Linked DNA regions of Homo sapiens: region 1 is linked to region 2. The links come from fine-mapping of genetic effects on gene expression. A gene starts in region 2. The other region holds a variant in brackets. All regions are shown on one strand. Distances are from middle to middle. Region 1 overlaps ADD2 (adducin 2). Region 2 holds the start of ADD2 (adducin 2).

What was found.
Region 1: its variant is fine-mapped to the expression of ADD2 in cerebral cortex (GTEx, PIP 0.98).

Annotation. Positions count from the first base shown.
Region 1 is chr2:70,654,718-70,665,560 of GRCh38, reverse strand. ADD2 (adducin 2) reads left to right here. Exons shown (of 16, transcript NM_001617.4): 16 at 1,826-8,777. The coding sequence ends at 2,136. Among named protein-coding and RNA genes, the nearest start is that of TGFA, 110 kb to the right of the region's middle. The variant A/G (reference allele first, on the strand shown) is at 5,527.
Region 2 is chr2:70,763,272-70,774,114 of GRCh38, reverse strand. ADD2 (adducin 2) reads left to right here and starts at 5,915. Exons shown (of 16, transcript NM_001617.4): 1 at 5,915-6,229. RefSeq lists enhancers at 2,543-2,592, 4,675-5,239, 5,649-6,214, 6,215-6,780.

The DNA of each region.
Region 1 (10,843 bases), 110 kb after region 2:
CAGGCGAAGTGGGAATAGGAGAGTGGACAGAGAGATGGTTGTGTCCAGCCTGGTTTATGGCACTCAAGAGTACTGCCAAGTGATGGCCACAGTATTACGTGGCGGGACGGGATGGGACACTGGATGAGGATGACAGGACATGGGCTGGGCAGTGGGAAGACTGGGAGCAGTGGCCAAAGTCTTTGATACCAAGAGGGAGCTGGTGCTCCGCAGTGGTCTGGAGGGGGCACTTTGACTTGCCCAGCAGTGTCAGGAGTTGCAAAGACTTTGTTACAGGGAGATCTGGCCCAGGTGGTTCACTAGTCCACTTTAACTGTCCACAAGTTACCCCACTCTGTCCCATCCTCCATGTAACCGTGCACTTCCCCAGACTTCACCCCTGTTAAGACCCCAGGCTTCTCCTAAAACTGAGTCCTTCACTCGCTCCCTCTGTAACACTGACTATACCTTCCACATCACCCACGATTCCATACACCTCAGCATGCCGGGTTCCTTCTTGTGATGTGGCAACACACACACTGCATTCATATGTGCCCATCACACACACACCACACAGGTGTGTCACACACTCACTCGCACACATTCACACCCTCGCATATGCTCATGTGCACTCACACACACTTACACAAACACATTTGTAAACGCTCACTCCCACACTCATATACCACTCACTGTCACACACACTGGTTCGCACATGCTCACACCACACACACAGACACACTCATGGCAAACAATCTCACTTGCATACTCAAACTTACACACTTACACCACACACAACCTGCCCACTCACACTTGCACACCCTCACACACCCACACACACACTTGCACACTCACACACACTTGTACACACTCACACGTGCTCACCCACACACACTCCTTTCAGTTCCCGTCGTGAGAAGAAGCTGAACCGGAAGTTGGTAAGCCGAGGTCTGCCCACCATGGTACTGTGTTCTTCAGCCTTCTTAACTGTGCAGTGGGGAGGAGAGGCATCAGATAATATTTACCTTGCTTTCTACTTTTCAGTCTGTGGTTTTACAATCTCCCTGACTCTCACCCCATCCAGGCATCTGAAAGGTTGTGTGGAAGCAAGGTTGAGTGAGAGTGGGGAGGGGGAGAAAGGGTGGCAGGAGGGTTTGGTTTCTGGGGCCTGAGTAACTCTGGCCTTGAACATTCCCGCGATCCCGACAGATTCCCAGGTGGAATAAAGACCTGGGGGCCCCAGTGGCTGCTAGAAAGGGCTGACCAGGGGTCTTCCCCTTTTGACTAACATGTCTTGGAAATATGGGGTCTGTGTTATATAAGGAATTCCACTCTCCCTCTGCCTACTGGGAAGATATTCTCCATATTTCTTGGAGTTCCTCACTGGTGTAGAAAATGAAATGGGTTTGAGGACATGTAATTTCCATGTTTTTATTGGTGAAACTAAACTGGTTACAGCAATGCTTAGATGTCTCCACCAAGCTGTACACCTCACGCCTTCTCCTTTCTCTGTGTCTGTTTCTTCTTTCTTGCCTAGAAAAACTCTGAGCTGGACCCCAGCCGGGCCTCCTGCCACTTCAGACATTAATATCCATCTAAATTCATAGACAAGAGCCCAGAGCTGCCAGCCTGCAAGGGGGTGTTCCCAGGACAGGCCACATGGAAGGTGCAGATCAGAACCCAGTCCTTCCATCTGTCTCTGGTAGCCATCCCTCAACATCAGGCTGGCCCTCCCCTCGCTCTGGATTGATTTTATAGAATTCCCTAGAAATGGTTCTGTTAGCCCCAGGTGGAAGCTGTCACCTGAATGAAATCTTACAGGTCATATCTTTTGATCTTTTTCTAGAAGGTACTAAGAAGACAGAAACAAGCAAAGCCGCCACCACAGAGCCCGAAACAACCCAGCCGGAAGGGGTGGTGGTCAACGGGAGGGAGGAGGAGCAGACGGCAGAGGAAATCCTCAGCAAAGGCCTGAGCCAGATGACCACCAGTGCTGACACGGATGTTGATACCTCTAAGGACAAAACCGAGTCGGTCACCAGCGGCCCCATGTCCCCAGAGGGCTCACCTTCCAAGTCTCCCTCAAAGAAGAAAAAGAAATTCCGAACCCCCTCCTTCCTGAAAAAGAGCAAAAAGAAGGAGAAAGTGGAGTCCTGATTCATGACACCCTTGGGCTCCCTCCTGCCTCCTCTCTCTCCTCCCCTTCCCTTCTCCCATCTCTGTCCCTGCAAGCACAGGGCTAAGGAGGGATAGAGTAGGACCCTGGACCACATTCGGAAGGGGAACTTAGAGATCACCCGACCAACCCTTCGTTTTACAGTTGCCCAAGAGAAATCAGGTGACTTGCCCAAGGTCACACAGCTAGTTAGCGGCAGAGCCTGCACTCGAATTCAGGTCTCCTGACTTCCAGTCCAGTGCTCCTTCTACTACACAACACTGCCTAGTTGTGGGCTGCCTTTGTTTGGATGCTGTCCACCAATCTGAGCCTAGGGCAAGAAGGCCAGAAATGGGCCGTGAGCTCTCACAGGCTCAGACTAAATCAGAGGTCAAGGCTTCCCCTGAGTAAGGTCCATTTCTTCCCAGGAATCCAATCTCCTGTGGATGGAGCTATCTCTACATTTAAAAATCTCTTCTCTTTTCCACTTTGGGTCCCTGCCCTGCTGCTCAAAGTGACTAGCCAAATTGACCCCTCCAACAGAAAGTAATCTTTGTTCCCAAGGGCTGATGGCTTAGCTTGTACTACCCCAAACATTAACCCTGAGCTTTCTTCATGGAACCTCTTGAATGATGGATGGAAGAGCTATAAGAGGTGGTAGGCATAGGGGCAAGCCATGTAAGCTGAGGATTGGGGATGGTTTCATCAACATAAGAGGCCAGGAACTTGACCCCTTTGAATTGTGCATCTCAGGCACTTCAAAACTAAAACCAAATTTAGCATAGGAAAAAGTTGTTTAATGCTCAGGGCAGAAATTTGGGGAAGTTGAAATCCTCTGTTGGCTTTGGGTTGTATAAGGAGGATCAAAACAACAGAGGAAATGCTGACTTTCTAGCTTTGCATGACACCTGGAGCAATGCACTGTACCTGCCTCACTCCTGTCCAGTGGTCAGGTTTCCCCTGACCTTCCCTCACCCCCAGAAACACTTGCTTACAGACCGAAACTGGCATCTTACTCTTGGCACCTTGACTTGCACCCTCTGAGGTTCCAACTCAGTCATTCTTTGTCCAGCAGAGGAGAATCAGAAATGAGCCCTTCAGGATTAATCCTCTTGCACCAGCTCTCAGAGAAATGCTGGGTATCCCTGTCCTTGTCCCTATCTGTCCATCCTGGGGCCTGGTAATGGCCACAGTTATTGTTTTAAATGCCAACACTGTCTTCTCATGTTCTTCCGTGGGGCATTGATTAATGAGCATTTGTTGGCTCCTAAAAATTAGACAATCCATTCTCTTGAAAGCACCGTGTCTTGAAAGAATATTTTTCCTTTTGATCTGACTATCGTGAAAATATTTTTGAAAGTTCTTAATCATAGTTTTCCACTTTTGAGCACTTGCTATCTATAGACACTGTGCAGGCTTCACATACATTACATTCTTTAACCCTCACAGTAATCCTTTGAGGGGGGTAAGATCATTCCCATTTTGTGGGTGAGGAAATTGACCCCCTAAAATGATAATTGACTTGTCCCAGCTGACTTGGCTAGAAAGATCTGGATCCTGGATTTGAATCCAGGTCAGTCTGAGTCCAGAGCCCTTGCTCTTAACAGCTATGGTGAACAGACAACTTTAATCCCCAGGGGTGGTGGTTTTCATCCAGGATTTGTCTCTATGACTGTTCTCCATTGCATAATGTTAGCACGTGAAGCAAAGGTAGGGAACACCCTGTGCTCATCCTCATCACTGCACGTGAAGTTCCTGGTCAATGTGGACTGTGGTGATGCTACTGTGTGCCTCTGACAAAGGAGAGGCAAGAGCCTTCTGGTTGGGGCGGGAAATACCATCCATAGTTGGCTATTTCTTGAGAAGGAAGGAAACTGACCTAGGACCAAGGTAAACCTGACACTGTGTCTCTCTAGTGCAGATTCCTAACTGCTACCCCAGGCTCCATCTCTGTTCTACTTCCTGATTGGGTCAAATTTTAGGAGGGACAACCCACTCATGCCTCAGAAAAATCTGTCATATGGGAAATGCCTTTAAAAGCCAATCCCTTGATGCCTTCTTTTAAAAAGTAGATTTCACACTTATTCATTTATCCTTACATGGTATTTGTTAAGGATCCACTGAGCACCAGGCATTATGCTGACGTTGAAAGAGAGCCATCATTATGACTAGAATAATAAGTGGCAAACGATGTTGTGAGAATGGTGAACACGACCTCTGATGCAGCCTTTTGTGTGCGAGTTGTTCTACTTCGGGGGTGATGTTGATTGCCTCTGCATTCAACACACTCTATTCCCTTGACAATGAGGCCTCACTTAGGCCTCATTGGGTGGAGTCTTGCTGCAGCATTATTCTGGGAATTTATGCCATGGGCCCACTTTCTATTGATAGATGAACCTGTCAGTTGGTTCATTCCTCATGCATTCCAAAAACATGCATTGAGCTTGGGTCAAGGGCCAGGCATGAGGATAGGCATAGTTCCTGCCCTCAAGAAGTTCATGAGCATAGGAGGTGTATAGACAAATTGCAAAACAGGCAAGGGTACCAAGGTGGCATAAGAAAGCATCAATTAACTATCTTGGGGACCAGAGAAACCCTGAGAGAAGCAATGGCTGCTAAGGTTTTAAAACAAAGAGTAAATTTCCAGTAGAATGAAAGGATTGGCAGGGCATGCCACAATGAGGGAAGAATGTGCAAAGGTGTGGACGCATGAAATGCCATGATGGGTTCCGCTGAGCAACGTGGCATTGCCAGAGCATGATGTGGAAGCTCAGGGGTTGAGGGGTCCCTTCATAGGTAGGCAGGGCTGAATCCTAAGGAAACTGGTAGGAAGTGTGGAGGAGCTAGACTTGTCATGGAAGGGGTTTGGAGCCACTGGAGCCTTTAAATCAGGATAGAGTCATGATCAGAATTGCATTTTAGGAAAATCCCTTTGGTGGCTGAATGGAGACTGTGGACTGGATGGGCGTGGGATGGTGGCATGGGAGCTATGAGGCCTTTTTGAAATGTCAATACTAAAACATAGTTGATGGCCTGCTTTACACGATGTTTCCTCTACAGCAGATAGTGAGTTTCCAACACAAAATTTATTTCCATAAAAGTCTTTGGATAAAGCACCTTAAGAGGGATTTTCAACAAGGAGAGGGGAGCATTCAAAGAGCTAATGTTTCCAGTTTTATTTTGTCTTGGTGTAGAATTGCTGGGAGAGGTGTCCAGCCATCCTGCCATTTCTTCTTCCCTTGCACAGAATGTGGCACATTTAGCTCCAGGCTTGAGGACATGCACCAAATGCTACAGAAACAGACATGTGGTCCAAACAAATCTACAGGCTATTAGAAAGGAAAGGCCATTTTCTTTGGCTGTGGATAAAAGTTGGCTGAAAACTTTGACCA[A/G]TATCTGACTGGAGAAAATGTGTATTCAAGAGCTCAGATTTGGTGGGCAGTAGGTTCATGTCTGGTTGAGCTACTGTGCTTGGATGTGCCAGAGAAAAGGGTAACATTTGAACCAATGTGCTGCTCTGTGGCTGGCTGAGCTGGGAAGTGGAGAGGTTTCTGAGCTTATTTCCATCGCAAGGCAGGCAGGAGGAGAGAGGACAAGAAGGATTAGTGGTTTCGCAGAGACAGGCTTGGCTCCAACGGCTCCTTGCGTAGTGTTGGCTGCACCCAACAGTGGTGTGAGAGAACCGTCCATACCATGTGACCTTCCTCCCAAACTGCAGAAAGAGACACCTTCTAGCCCAGATCTGGACTCCCTAAGAGCCTCCTGGCCTGCATGCAACCCAAGTAACTGTCCTACTTTGGCCAGTTGACCCCCTCCACTCTCCTATAACTAAAACAGGGTTCTTCCTCTGTGAACAGATAAGTTCTTTTTAAAGGACTTGGGGGAAATTGGATGAAGAGCAGTAAGTTCTTACAGTAAGAACCCCACTGTAAAGCACTGCCCTCTGCCACTGATCCATGTAGACTGAATTTGAATCCCATTCCCTGTGGATGATACCGTCACTTGCTCATGGTGACATGGCAAGACAGTCATTCAGATGTTTGGCATTGTTGTAGCAGGGCTACTGCTAGTGTGGGGGAAAATGCTATAAATCCACTTCTTTGATTGCCATGGATTTGAAAGAACCATTTGCCCAACAGCATGATTCGCCTCTGAAAGTCTAAAAATAATTTTCAATTTTTCCATGAAGGTATGTGGAGGGTAAACACACAGCCTACGCATAGGTCTGCATGACATGTTTTTTCTTTTTCTTTCTTTTTTTTTTTTTTTTTTTTTTTTTTTAGACGGAGCTTTGCTCTTTGTTGCCCAGGCTGGAGTGCAGTGGTGCAATCTTAGCTCACTGCAACCTCTGCCTCCCGGTTTTTCAAGCGATTCTTCTGTCTCAGCCTCCCAAGTAGCTGGAATTACAGGAGCCCGCCACCTTGCCCAGCTAATTTTTGTATTTTTAGTAGAGACGGGGTTTCACCATGTTGGCCAGGCTGGTCTTGAACTCCTGACCTCGTGATCCACCTGCCTCGGCTTCCCAAAGTGCTGGGATTACAGGAATGAGCCACTGTGCCAGCTGACACGTTTTTTCTTTTGTGTGAATTTTATGTTCTAGTTTTGGGACAAGGGTAATCAGTTCTTGACTAGTGAACAAATGAGAGAACATTTACCCCTTACTCATTTTACACATGCAGGTCAGCAGAAGCCCTAGAGTTGGTTGGCACAGTCGCAGTTGACTGAGCATAGAGGAAACAGGTCTTTTTACATTCTCTCTCATCACTGGAGCTCAGTTGAACTCTAAGACCTTAGCACTCAAAGAGTCTGAAAAGAAATGAGGGAGAGGCTAAATTTAAGCTCTCCACTCCCACAGAAAGGACAGGGCACCCTACAATCTAAAAGCCAGTGAGGCAGCCTATCATCTGTTTCACATCTGTTCTGAAAGGGATAGTTTAATGCAAGAAGTAAGAGGCCTGTAGTGACTGTAAACTCATGAAATGTGCACATTGGTTATCTGTGCACATTTCCACTTGCACCATAACATAAGAAAGCGTACATGGAGTGTAATTACTTCCAGAAGCCCCGTCTAACCAACCTATTCAGATGTGGCACACTTTCTGTCATAAATGAGAGACCACACGTAGAGCTCGGTCACCAAGGAATGCCCAACATCCCTTTACCTCTCACAATGAGCAGCCACGCTCACCGGGAAGCAGTGTGGGGACTTCAGTGGGGTGTCCCTTAGTGGAGAACACCTTTCATCATTTTTATAGAGACAATTCCCTTGAGAATGTAGGCTTTTCATCTTAGGAACAATTAGGAAGAATCTCCAGCTGGGAGTGTTCTTATGTATACAGAAACAATGGGTCGCATTGGTTCATACTTAGGTGATATTAGGTTTGGCTATATTGATGTTTGGTGCCACTTACCTTCTAGATTTTCCCAAAAGTTGGGTCATTGCTATGGGAAATTGGGGCCTGCAGATGGGGGAGAAATGATCATTATTGGTGCAGGGAAGGGGTTCAGGCAGAGCTGGAGTCTGAGGCTCAGTGTGAGAAAGCACTGGCAGTTTTCTAGTAGAGTCAGGTCCTGGGCTCCTCTCCTCACCCACTGTGTCCCGAACTGAGGCCAGCTGTGATCGGCAAATTGCTTATCTCTAGGTAGTTTAAAGAAAACGTAAGAGTTTGGGGGGTGGTGGGAGAATAACTGTAGAAAGACCCTAAACTCTTCTCTCCCCCAGCAAATTATCTTGTATAATGTTTAAAAACCCAAAGGCCAGATCTCCCCTTTTAACGTGAATCAGAAGGAGGATGGCAATTGGACCAAGGGCAGAGTGGCCACACTTGAAACACATTATAAAATGGGAATATATTTCAGGGAACCCCACCCCCACACTTCCACTCCACCTCACACCTGTTGGTCCTGCTTTGTGGGTGATTGATTGATACCCAAGGACTGCCCCACCTTTAAATTCCTGCAATTTATGCTGCAACCAACATCTTAGTGTTTGCTCTCTCCGGGAAGAGGCCAGGTGGGGGAGAACATACGGTCCAGAGCCTGAGATCGCCTGGCTGGGGTGCAGGCAAGCAGGAACCCAGTCTAGATAGAATGCAGTGTTCTCTAAAGCTATGGATGGTTTCAGTGAAATGTCTGTGTCTGACAATCGTCACGCAAGAGTACTTACTGTCTTCCCTTGTACATACATTGTCTGTGTTTAGCTTTTCCTAGTATTGTGAGGTTTCAAATAGGGGTTCCATGTAAATACTCTTTCTGCTACTGAAATGCCGGCCCCCTTGAGTATGCATCACCCCCACAGATGGTTTTGCCTTTCTCTATGCTAACACTTTTTGAGCCACTGACGTGCAGATCGGTGGTTAGTTTCTTGGGCTTTTATTTTGCAATTTTATATATATACACATATTATATATATATATATATTTATGGGTTGGTTTTGTATAGTTTTCTGTTTGAATCTCTGAGCACCAAAGCTGCCCTTTGATTTTCACGAGAACTTTCCAAAGCCACTTCCTGAGCCCTCCTGCTGCTTTGGTGTCTGACGGTGATGCTGCGGTGGCATCTCTGCCCGTGAATTTCTGTATGTGTGTGCTGTTACCTCACCTGCAGACATGACCCTAGTAAATCTAACGTGCTTGGCTTCCCAGTGTGTGTGCCCCATCTCTGTCGGCTCCTCAGCTCTCCTGGCTCCCAGGGGAGAAGTCAGAAAGGGGGCCCTGTGGAAACATGGACCACGCAAGAAAATTGTACCCTTGAGGCCATTTCTCACACACGGAAAGCTGAACATGTGTCTACTTGTGTTCTGATTTGGGAAGGGCGGTTATAAAATACTAGACTCTCCTGAAAAGGAAATGGCCATGTGGATTTGAAACAGCTCTGTGGAGGAAGCTCAGTTTAGGTGGGTTGGGATAGGGGAGGAGCATTGCACAAACACACATGTGGACGGCCCTGCAGGGCAGCAGCAGCGGCAGATCTATAGGCTGGAATGGAAGAGGGTGTCAGGCCAGAGTGAGAATCTTGGAGAGGGCTAAGAAGTCACCCCAAGGGGTGAAAGGAGAATGGAGAGACTAGGTGGGGAAAAAGGAAGAGAGAAAAGAGGAAAGAGAGCCTTTGGCTCCTCTTTATTCAAAAACTACTGTGGAAGCTCAGTATTCCTTGAGTATCCACACATATGTGGCAGGTGTTGTTTAAGTATCTCATGCATCGCACCCACTGAGCCCCCATAAAACCCAGAGGGTGATTCTGTTATTACTACTTACTTTACAGATGAAGTAAGGAGACTTTTCTTGGGCCACAGGTTAATATGTGGTAAAGCCCAAGTTCAGCTAAGGTCTTGTAGGTAACCAAGCCCTGGCTCTTTCCACTGCTGCTCACTGCCGGGTGCCCTGAGCACAAGAGCAGTCCCCGTCATTACTCTCAGGCCCACTGTTATGGGCACGTCTGCTTTCCACAGACTGCCTGTATCCAAGGGTAGAGCCCCTCTTCCTCCTCTTGCATCCAGGTATCCTGAAGTTTCCACAGCTCCTGTAAACTTGGAAACAAGGAACCCAGCCCCTCGGGTGCCCCAAAGCCATCAGTTTCTCCCTTGCTGCAGTCACCCAGGAATCCACCTGTAAGGAATATGACTTCTGTGTGCTCTCACAGCTGTGTACATCGATCAGGTCAAGGACAATAGTCAATCTGCTGACACCACTTTATAAAGCTTGCTACAGTTTAAGATTATCATGCTGAGACCAGCCTGACCAACATGGAGAAACCCCGTCTCTACTTATAACACAAAATTTGCCGGGCGTGGTGGCGGGTGCCTGTAATCCCAGCTACTTGGGAGGCTGAGGCAGGAGAATTGCTTGAACCCAAGAGGCGGAGGTTGCGGTGAGCCAAGATCGTGCCATTGCACTCCAGCCTGGGCAACAAGAGCGAAACTCTGTCTCAAAAAAAAAAAAAAAAAGATTGTCACGCAAACCCACAAGTTGAACTCTTCCTAAGTTTGCACTATGACTAAAGGGAAACTAATGTAGGAGCAGAGTGCCCTCTATCTGCCAGAGATATTAAGAAATTTCTCCAGCGCATATACAGCAGTACCCCCTTATCTGCTGGGGATACTTTCCAAGACCCCCCCATGGGTGCCTGAAACCTTAAATAGCACTGACCCCTAGACACACTATGATTTTTCCTATACATATATACCTCTGAGAAAGTTTATAAATTAGGAGCAGTAAGAGATTCACAATAATAAATTAGAACTATTATAACAATGTGCTGTAATAAAAGTACAATAAGCATTACTTGAACACACGCATGGTGATACTGTTACAGCCAATCTGATAATCAAGACGGCTACTGAGTGACTAGTGGGCAGGTAGTGTAGACAGCGTGAATACACTGACAAAGGGTTATTTGTGCTCCCAGGTAGATAGCACTGAACAAATGGGATGATGAGATATTGCAGCACACTACTCAGAACAAACACGCAATTTAAGGCACGGTGGCTCACCCCTGTAATCCCAGCACTTTGGGAGGCCGAGGCGAGTGGATCACCTGAGGTCAGGAGTTCGAGACCAGCCTGACCGAAATGGTGAAACCCCATCGCTACTAAAAGTACAAAAATTAGACAGGTGTGGTGGCGGGCGCCTGTAGTCTCAGGAGGTTACTTGGGAGGCTGAGGCAGAAGAATTGCTTGAACCTGGAAGGCAGAGGTTGCAGTGAGCTGAG
Region 2 (10,843 bases):
CTTACTTGGTCTGCTGAGTCAAATGTTAATCTCATCCAGAAATACCCTCATAGATAACTGGGATGTTTGATCATAGCCTTTTTCCTTCCCCCACCTTAAAGAGTAGCTTTGTTTGCTTGTCTACTGGGCTTTGGGTCCCTTGTCTTCATCAGGGGGAATGGTGTAAATGAAGAGAAGGAAGGAGAACAGAAGTTGAGACTAGCTGTATTAGTTTGTTCTCATGCTGCTAATAAAGACATACCCAAGACTGGGTAATTTATAAAGGAAAAGAGGTTTAATGGACTCACAGTTCCACATGGCCTGGGAGGCCTCACAGTCCTGGTGGAAGATGGAGGAAGAGCAAAGGGACGTTTTACATGGTGGCAGGAAAGAAAGAATGAGAACCGAGCAAAAGGGGAAACCCCTTACAAAACCATCAGATCTCATGGGACTTATTCACTACCATGAGAACAGTATTGGAGAAACCACTCCCATGATTCAGTTATCTCCCACTGGGTCTCTCCCACAAGTGGGAATTATGGGAGCTACAATTCAGGATGAGATTTGGGTGGGGACACAGCCAAACCATATCACCATCTTTATTAGAGAGGAAAGAGAGCTACCTACAGAAGAAAAGCTCTGGAAGGTAGGAGAAGGGTTAGGAATTCCTGGGATAACTTCCACTGGTGTGGGACTACATTGAACAAAGAGGACGAGAGAGAATTTCCCCTGCTCCCTCTCCTTTCCGTCTATTCAATGACTTGCAGAACTTTTCAAGGCATTGGCAGTGGGATTATTTCTTTTGAATGTGGCATTGTAATGGAACTGGGTCTCGGGGTAAGGATGAGGAAGCCCTTACTGATGTGAGTTGTACACACCCTAAGCGGAATTCCTCAGAATCAGAATGAGAGCCATCTGCTGGGTCTAGCTGCCTGAGGGGCATTGGGTAGTAAGAGAGTCATGGTACCAGGAACAAATCCCTGGGTCTATCTGAGGCATCAGCTCCAAGTTTCAAGACAGACTCTGAAAGCTTTAGCACCTTCTAGGAATAAGAACTGCAGAATAATAAATCCTGCTGGGCAAGCAGTGATCATAAAAGAAAATTCTTGTGGGCTGGTAGGAGGAACTAGTGCACTTAACATCGGGTACAGGAAGGCCTCCCCCAGAGGGACTTACATGTTATCAGGGCTCAACATGAAGAGCTCTATCCACAGCTCTCCAGGTCTGGACCTAACATGAGGGTGGGAACTGGAGTCTGGGGCTCTCTTGTCTCTGGAACCACTCTGGTTATTTCCTGGTGTGGCTGGGGTTACACTGTCTGGCTGTCTCAATAGGTAATAAGACCATAAGTGCTTTCACTTGGCGTCCCATTTTGTCTACATGACAACCTTGGCCAGGTGGAGGATGTAGTAGTTTTCTGGGGCTCCCATAACAAAGCATCCCAGATGGTAATGGTAAACCACAGAAATGTGTGGTCTTACCATTCTAGAGGCTCAAAGTCTGAGATCAAAGTGTGGGCAGGTATGATTTCTTCTTGGAGTGTATGTAGATGGCCACCTTCTTGCTGTGTCCTCATATGGTCATCCCTTTATGCCAGTTTGTGTCCAAATTTCTTATAAGGACCTCAGTCATACTGGATTAAGGCCCACATATATGACATCATTTTACCTTAATTACTTTTTTAAAGGATTTAGCTCCAAATACAGTCACATTGTGGAGCACTGGGGGCTAGGACTTCAACACATAAATTTGAGGGGGATGAGATTCAGCCCATAACAGAGAGCAAGTGCTGTCACCCTCACTTTATAGCTGGGTAAGGGAGAATAAGGGGTCAGGGTCTTTCCTAAGTCCACACATTCCCTGGGACTGAGATTGGAGCCCTAGGCCCTGGACTCCCAATTCACTTCTGTTTCCAGAGCAGCATCAGCCATAGAGGTGAACTTTCATTTATTGGGTATCTTCAGAACATCTAGACTTACAACTTATCAGTGGTCTTCCTTTGAAAGCACTGTCTTCCTTCCCTTGCCCCATCTTAAAGTGGGTTCCCCTAAATGTAGATTACGATTTGAGTGTAAGTTGGGAAGCAAGCCCGGGAGGCACCTGTAAGGGAGTGGGAAAGTGATATAGGGAAGAAAAGCCCATAAAAGATGCGTGAGTGAGCAGGTAGGTTACTGCTGTGGGCAGCTGGGGCTCAATCCTGCTGAGGCTCTCTGGGAGACAATGGAGAACACTGAGGTATTCTCCCAACTCTCAGGGATGAGGGAGCCAGGCTGTTTATCCACAAACTCCTAATGGTCATTGGTTGAGGGCTGATCCCAGGGGTGTTGATTTCTCCAGCATTTCCAGCATGCCCTAGAAAAGGCCATTGATAAGCATGCCTGGGCCTATAGAGTGCTAAGCCCCCGTATTAGTTATCTATTGCTGTGTAACAAATTAATGCAAACTAAGCAACTTAAAACAACACATTTATTATCTCATGGTTTCTGTGGCCAGGAGTTGAGTCTCGGTATGACTTAACTGAGTCCTCTGCTTCAGTGTCTCTCACAAGGCAGAAATCAAGGTGTCAGCCAGGGCTGGGTTCTCAGTGGAAGGCTTAACTGGGGGAGGATCAGCCTCTAAACTTATGTGATGGTTAGTGGGATTCATTTCCTCTAGGACTTTTTTGGACTGAAGTTCTCAGTTTCCAGCTGGCTATTAGCTGGATGTCACCCTCAGTTCCTTGCCATGTAGATCTTCCAAACATGGCTACTAATGAAAGCATGCAGGTCAAGACGCCAACTGAGACAGTCTGCTAGCAAGACAAAGAATCTTATGTAATGTAATCACGGAAGTGAACATCCCATTATCTTTGCCTTATCCTGTCGGTTAGAAGTGAGCCACAGTCGTGCCAGCACCTAAGGAGAGGGTAATACACAGGGCAATGGATACCAGGAGATGGGGCTCACTGTTGCACTGCCAGCTTCTCTCTCTACTAGTTATTCTTGGCCAGAAACATTTTTGTCAGAAGACTTGGAAGATGAGAAATTTTACTGCAAATCAGTCAGAGAGTCTAATTTTAAACTATCTGGCCATGGAGGGTTAGCCAGCTGTGATTTTTCCCCGGTCTGACATGGGGGTCTCTTGTGTTTTTCTGGCCCCAGTTAAGGGCCAGGCATCTTGGGCTTGTTGCAGTGGGAGCTCTGAAGTCTCCTGGTCTCCCATTGACAGTTGGAGCCAACTACAGTTGTGGTTCCTTTTCCTGGATTTTGAAGTGAATTTGAAATTGAGAATTTCTGGAACTTCAATTAAAATTTCATATAGGCTATGAATATGGGAATTAATGAAGTCTTATTTCCTCTCTGACATTTGGACAATTCCTAAAGTCCCAGGATGGCACCACCTTCTCAGTATGCAGTATCAGATAGACCCTGGGAGAGGCCGGACATATATATATAAAAATATATGTAATATATATAATATATATTGTGTATATGTAATATATATAATATATACATATATAAACATAAATATATATATGTATCTCCTGTGATGACTAGGGGAGCAGAATCATTTTTTTTTTTGCCGGGGGGAAGGAGAATGTATTAGTCTTATCAGCCTTTCAGTGTCTTGTACCAGCTCTGCTTTAAAAAGTTTATTTTTGGCCAGGCGTGGTGGCTCACGCCTGTAATCCCAGCACTTTGGGAGGCTGAGACGGGCAGATCACCTGAGGTCAGGAGTTCCAGACCAGCCTGGCCAACATGGTGAAAACCCATATCTACTAAAAATACAAAAATTAGCTGGGTGTGGTGGTGCGTGCCTGTAATCCCGGCTACTCGGGAGGCTGAGGCAGGAGAATCGCTTAAACCTGGGGAGAGGAAGTTGCAGTGAGCTGAGATCATGCCACTGCACTCCAGCCTGGGGGGCAGCATGAGACTCTGTCTCAAAAGAAAAAAAAAAAGTTTATTGTCCCCTCTGGGAGGCCATGCAGTGTAGTGGTTAGGGCCCACAAACTCTGGAGCCACAGCACTTGAGTTTGATTCATTGCTCAGCCACCCACTAGCTGTGTGACCTAGGGCAAGCGACTTAACATCCCTGTGCCTCAGTCTCTTCATCTATAAAATGGGGATGATAATAGTACCACCCTCACAGAGTTTTTGCAAGGATTATGTGAAAATGCATGTAAAGCTCTCAGAACAGTGCCAGGAACCAACAAGGGTTTGCTAGGATTCATGTGAGAAAACAAAATAACACACTAGGAAGAGAAATTTTGGGGGATGGAAATGACTGGGGTGACTTATGAAACCTGCTATTTCTAACAAAAATTCTCCATTCTTTTTGGGGGTTCTATTAAGATATAGAGCCCACCTTACCTGTGACTTCTGAGCTCTGGAGAAGGGGTTCCCTGTTTCTCAGATCTCATCACCCATTAGCACCAAAAGAGCTATGGCTGCCAGGAATGACTCAATAAACATAACACGTCCTGGCTTCTTTGACCAGACAGACCTAGGTCCTGGGGTGGGGAGGGGAAGGGGTTTCATCTTGTGTGGCTGAGCCTGTTGTAATTCTTCTAGCAGGTTTTGACAGGAGAATGGGGAGAAGTCTTGTGGACTCGGTGATTCTGAATGAGAATGAGTGAGAAGCTCTGAGTGTGGAAGGAGGGTGCAGGGACCAGGTATGCATGTATGTTTCTTGGAAGGGGGGCTGAAGCAGAAAGACAAGTTTATCCTGGCATCTAGGGTTGTCGTTAGCATTTTCTTTTCTAAATCAGTAGTAGCTCTCAGAGTGGTGTTTCTAAAGTGTTAGTGTGCAAAGGAATCACTAGGGCTGCTTGTTAAAATTACCAATCCTGAGCCTACCTCCAGAGATTCTGGTTCCACAGCAGCACTGTGGTGGGGGCCAGTGACTTTTGTGGGGGTGTCTGAGGGCTGTGGTGCCCCAGAACCTGGAAGGGCAGAGGGGCCATGATCAGGTTTCAGATCAGTGGCCAGAGGCTTTTCTGGAAGCTGTACATTTTCACAAGCACATTTTCAAAAGCCCTTGGAGAGGATGTTGATTGAGGGGAGTTTTGGGGACTGGTGGAGATTATGGGGGTGAAAAGTCCAGAGCTATCTCTTAACACCCCTACTCTCTGAGGGCCAGGCCTTGAAAGTATTGGAAATGGGAGGTGCCTTAGGTACACTGTCATTTTACAGAGGAAGACAACGAGGCCCAGAGAGGTTAAGTGGGTTGATTAAGGTCTCACAGCTAGTTAAGAGCAGCTCTGAGACGGCAACCGAAGTATTCTGGTTCCCTATCCAGTTCCCCACTCACTACACACCTGTTCCTTCTGGGGCGGGAGACCTGAGGAAGGAAAGGAGTGAGAGGAGAATGTAGTGAGAGTTGGAGAGCGTTGGGTCCACAGCCCCCAAGGGCAGGGCCACAACAAAAATGTTGTCCTGGTTGAAAAGGAGTGAGAATCAGGACAGGGAGAATTTTGGTTTGGAATTCAGTCAAACAATTGCTATTAAAATCACTAATAGAATTATCTTCCGAAGGCTAGCTGTCCTTTCCAGACGAAAAGAAATATTCCAAGTCTAAGACTTTTGCTTTCTTCCTTCCAGGGAGAATACATTCCCCCAAGGGAGCTCTGTTTCAGATTTTCTCCCTAGTAACAGACTCCCCTGCTTAGCTCTGGCCATCCCGGGTAGTGAGTGGTGCGGGGCGGGGGTGGAAGGGGGCTGGAAGCCTGGCTAGGGGGGTCTGCGGCGGCGCGGGCGGGGGCGCTGCGGGGAGGAGGGGGGCGCTGCGGGGCGGTAGTGGGGGTGCTGCGGGGCGAGGCCGCTGCGGGGCGGTGGGGGGCGCTGCGGGCGGGGGCACTGCAGCACCGCGGCCCTCGGGCGGCCGGCGCGGCCTGCTGGAGGGGGCGCTGTGGGCACCGCGCAGCGGCCTTTTGTCAGCGCGCAGGGCCAGGAGAGCTCTCATTTCCTCCCAGCCTCGTGCGGGAAATGGCTTTAATTCTGACGGCAGGGCTGTGAGGGACTAGCGGGAACCCGAGCCTTTTGTCAAGGAACTGCGGCGTCGGTGGCCAGTCATCCCCGCCGCCGCGGAGCCGCTGCACTGCTGGGGGATCTCCCAGCAGCTCTGACGAGCGCGGGCTGCAGCATGGGCAGAAAACGCTGCCCTGCAGATTAGCTGGGTGGATTTTTTAAGCGCACCCCACCCCCCAAACCCATAAAATAACAAAACCAACCCGCAGTGGCCGACCGGAGATAGCTAAGATGCCGCGCAGGAGGTAAGGGTCTGGGGAGCGGGCCTGGTGGGCTGCCTGGGGTCGCTGGTCTCCTGGCGCGGAGACCCTGGCATCCCTCGGCCGGGCGGGAGCCGCTTGGCCCAGGTGGGGCGCGTCTGTTGCCGAGCGCGTCGGTGCTGCAGCCCTGGCCGGCAGCGGTGTGTTTTGCGCCTAAAGGTTTCTGGTGATGATGTAGCATCCGAGGCTCTTAGGAAATCGGGGCTGCAAGCACTGGCCCCTGCTTGGGGATGGTGGGACCCTCGCCCGGAGCGTAACGCCTGACAGGTGGGGCTTTCTTTTGGGTCCGAATGGAGGGGCGGCAAGCCTCGCCTCGCCTAGCCGGGCGGGGCCGCTCCTCCCCTCCCCTCCCTCCCCTCCCCTCTCTTTCCTTCCCGCTCGGCCGCCGCCCTCCGGGGTAGCGGTGCGAGGCGGGCTTGGCGGGGCTGGGCGCGTCCCCCGGGGCCTCGCGATCGCTGGCTGCGCGGCGCTCAGCCGCAGTGGCCGGCCGAGCAGGTGCGGCGTCGGCAGCCGCCTACATTGAGATCGGGGCAACCGGCACGTGAGCGGGCCTCGTGGGTTTTGATTTTATGCGGCTCCACCACTTTGGAGGGAAAAATCCCACTGTACCCGAGGGGGTCTTGCCAGTCTGTTTCTTCCATCTTCCCTCTCCTCTCCCTGCCTCCCCTCCCTTTCTGCAGCCGGGGCGGAGGCCATCCCCGGTCCCGGAGGCGGGAGTCGGTGTCTGCTTATTTTTAAATCACACCACAGCCTACCTGGTGTTGGGGGGAAGGGAGGGAGGGGCAGACTGCTTTAGGATGCAGATCAGGCTCTCGGGTCTGGCCTATTGTCTTGCCTTTTCTCTTCCTTCCTTTTCTCACCCCTAATCTCCATCTCTTGCCCAAAACTAAAAATAGAAAATAGGAAATAGAAATAGAAAATAAAAAAGCAAGCTCCAGCCCACACCCTATCAAATTCTTTAAAAAACTGTCATTTATCTCTGACACATGATTAATACCCATCTGTTTCCTTACACCCACTCTTCCCTCTTGCTGTTTGTCGTCTAAGATTCAACTGACTCAGATGAGCTTTATCGATAATAGAAATCAAATCTCAGTTTCCTAAATGCACATTTCGTGCTTCCCGAGTAACCCAAAAGGAGTGGTTGGTCTGGCATCCTGGCAGAAGCAAAGGGATTGGAGAGGGTGCAAGCAACTGCTTTCATGTCTAGTTTGTGGATCTAGCTGGGATTCCTGAGATGTTTAACTTGTGCAGTGAGGGGTGTTCTCATTAATGGCATTAGAAAATTATGTTCCGTTTTAAGAGAAAAATAGCAAGTCAGCATTTGAAGTAAAAGTGTTTTAAATGAATCTGACCAAAGAAGAGAACTATGACGTTTCAGACTTGCAAATAATATCTCCATTAGCATATGAATAATATATGTTAGAGACTTAAAAGGGGGGTTTAGACCATTTAATATTTTTACTTTATAAGGTTCTACTTTAATTGTGTAATGTGATCAAACTTTTCTCTGTAGAGACTTTTCTCCTATAGATCAGGATCTTGCCCAGCCTTTCTTCCCTACTCCTCCCTGCATAGGGCACAAGTAAAAGCAAAGTTTTCATTATTGGTATGATGTCAACACATTTTGAAAAACCACTAAAGATAAATTATTCTTTGATCCAAAATCCATAAGAATTTTGTAGTAAGCCCTATGTTCTTTCTTGTCCACCAAATTGCCTAGCCTTATTAGAAATATGCTTGTCATATACACAATGTACAACAATGCCTGACATGATATGCTGTGGTTTCTAGGCTTGGATTGAATTTGTTTTAAATATTAGTATAGTGTTGGAATTAGCAAATCTCAGCTATTCTTAAGGTTAACAGTTGAGCAAATGTGTTTGCTGGCAGTGGGTTTAGTGTTAAGATTTTAAATATATATAAAAAAGACTAGTAGATATATTTATTTATTACCACCTCTTCCACAAGGGATTTAAGATAGTTTACAGGGATTCATAAATATGGCAAGGCAGCCTAACTTGGAAGTAGTTGGGAAAGAAAAAAGGACACTAAGGGTGGAGTCATAAAATGGTCTTAAGCGTGAGGCTGATACAAAAACATGAGCATGAGACCTTCTACAATGGCTACGGGCAGGAAACAAAAACAGCTCTAAACTTTCTTGCAGCATAAGCAAAAAAGAAATTGACGAACCCATGGCTTATATGTTTTATTTATTTGTTAAACTCATTCACACACTTCTTCACTCAACAAACATTCAGTGAGGACTTACTACGTGCCAGGTTCTGTAAGACGTACTGGGAACAAAGGGATAAAGCAGATAGACGTGGTCTGTGTCTAATGGGCGCTTAAAGACAAATGCAAGAAATGGACACTCATCAAGAAATCTCTCAAATGAATATATAATTACAAATTGTGATAACAGCTATGTGGGAAAAACACAAAACACAAAACATTATATGGCCAGAACATAAAAACACAACAATTCTTTTTTATTTTTTATGTTTTATATTTTTTTGAGACACAATCTCATTCTGTTGCCCAGGCTGGAGCGCAGTGGCATGATCTCGGCTCACTGCAACCTCCACCTCCTGGCTTCAAGTGATTCTCACGCCTCAGCCTCCCGAATAGCTGGGACTACAGGTGCGTGTCACCACGCCCGGCTAATTTTTGCATTTTTAGTAGAGACGGGGTTTCGCCATGTTGGCCAGGCTGGTCTCAAATCCTTGGCCTCAAGCGATCCACCTGCCTCTGCCTACCAGAGTGCTGGGATTACAAGTGTGAGCCACTTTGCCCAACCAACAGTTCTTGATTCCGAGACCAGAAAGGAACTTTTTCCTAATGTGACATAGTGTTTGAAATGATGCCTTCGATCACCTCCTCATCAGACACAAGGACAAGTTTCATAGGGTTGTTTTTCACAATGGCCCTCAGCATGAGCTAATGATATCATGCCACAGGTCTCTCAGCCCCCTGGGGTTCTGAAGATATACGTATTTTGAAAGATCTGTGTATTCTCTGACATTAGTGGTTTTATTCCAGTGATAATCTTTTTTGCGGAATCTTGCTCTGTCACCCAGACTGTTTGAGTAGGGATCTTGCTCTGTTACCCAGGCTGGAATGCAGTGGCATGATCATAGTTCCCTGTAGCCGGGACCTCCTGGGCTCAAGCGATCCTCCCACCTCTCCCTCCTGAGTAGCTGTGACTACAGGCATGAGCCACTATGCCTGGCCTATTCCAGTGATAATCATAAATAATTAGCAGTAAAAATGTGTTCTGGATCATCTTGATGGCAAGGCTGAAACTGATGCTGGAGTCTGCGTTTGCCTTTGTATCTTTCCATTTGAGCCATGGGCAGGCCTGGTGGCTCCAGCCACAGCCTGGGTGAAGGGAAGGGGAGTTGGAATAGTGGAGAGAGTGAGTCTACACAGGACACACACAACTTGCCAACTCCAAAAGAACAGCTCCTGGCGACCACTGCTCTATTGGCAGGGATTGAAGATCTCACGCCAGTTCATCTTTGTATGGATCAAGTTTGCAGCAATTTATTAGCAGCAGATGTAGTAAAAACACAACAGAAAAGTTGCTGTTGTGGATTTTAACAATATTTGAATTAGATCTTCATTTAATGCATATTTAGTAACTCTCCAATAGGTACCTTACATCTAAGAAAATGAGATGGGGCCGGGCGCGGTGGCTCACGCCTGTAATTCCAGCACTTTGGGAGGCCGAGGCAGGTGGATCACCTGAGGTCAGGAGTTCGAGACCAGCATGACCAACATAGTGAAACCCCATCTCTACTAAAAATACAAAAATTAGCTGAGCATGGTGGTGGGCAACTGTAATCTCAGCTACTCGGGAGGCTGAGGCAGGAGAATCACTTGAATCCTGGAGGCAGAGGTTGCAGTGAGCCGAGATCACACCACTGCACTCCAGCCTGGGCAACAGAGCGAGACTCCAACTCAAAAAAAAAAAGAAAAGAAAATGAGATGGGTAATTTGTTCTGATGGTTAAGTGACACCAGACTGTCTGACTTCAAAAATTATTTTTCTACTTACTAGCTGTGAGAGTTTAGGCAAGTTATTCAACCTCTCTCCTGCTCAATTTCCTATAATAATATAGGAATAAATATATGGCATTGATTGCATGGTGATATTATAAGAATGAGTTGTTACATGTGAAAGACTTACCTATTGCAATAAATTAATTTTATTACTTTGATATTTTAAAGTGGATAGTTGTATTTGTACATTGTTTTGGCATTTTAATAATATAAAAGCTGTAAAGCATAGGTGTTTAGAACTGGTATTTATGAGTATACATATTTAAGTTACATTTTAATAAAAGTGACTTAGGTCAACCATGAGGTCATGAGAAATTTTTTCTGCCAAAAGGGATGTTTATATAGTTTAAGCATTTTGAACTATGTACAGGGACACACACAGATTCTTGGAATAGAAATTTGAATCTTTAGAAGAGATTGCAGCCACAATATTTGACTCCACATACATTGGCTGCTACAATTTTAGCCTGAAAGAATTTTAAAGCAATAATATGAAAAACTGCCTGTCTTCAATGACAACCACCACCAAATCTTC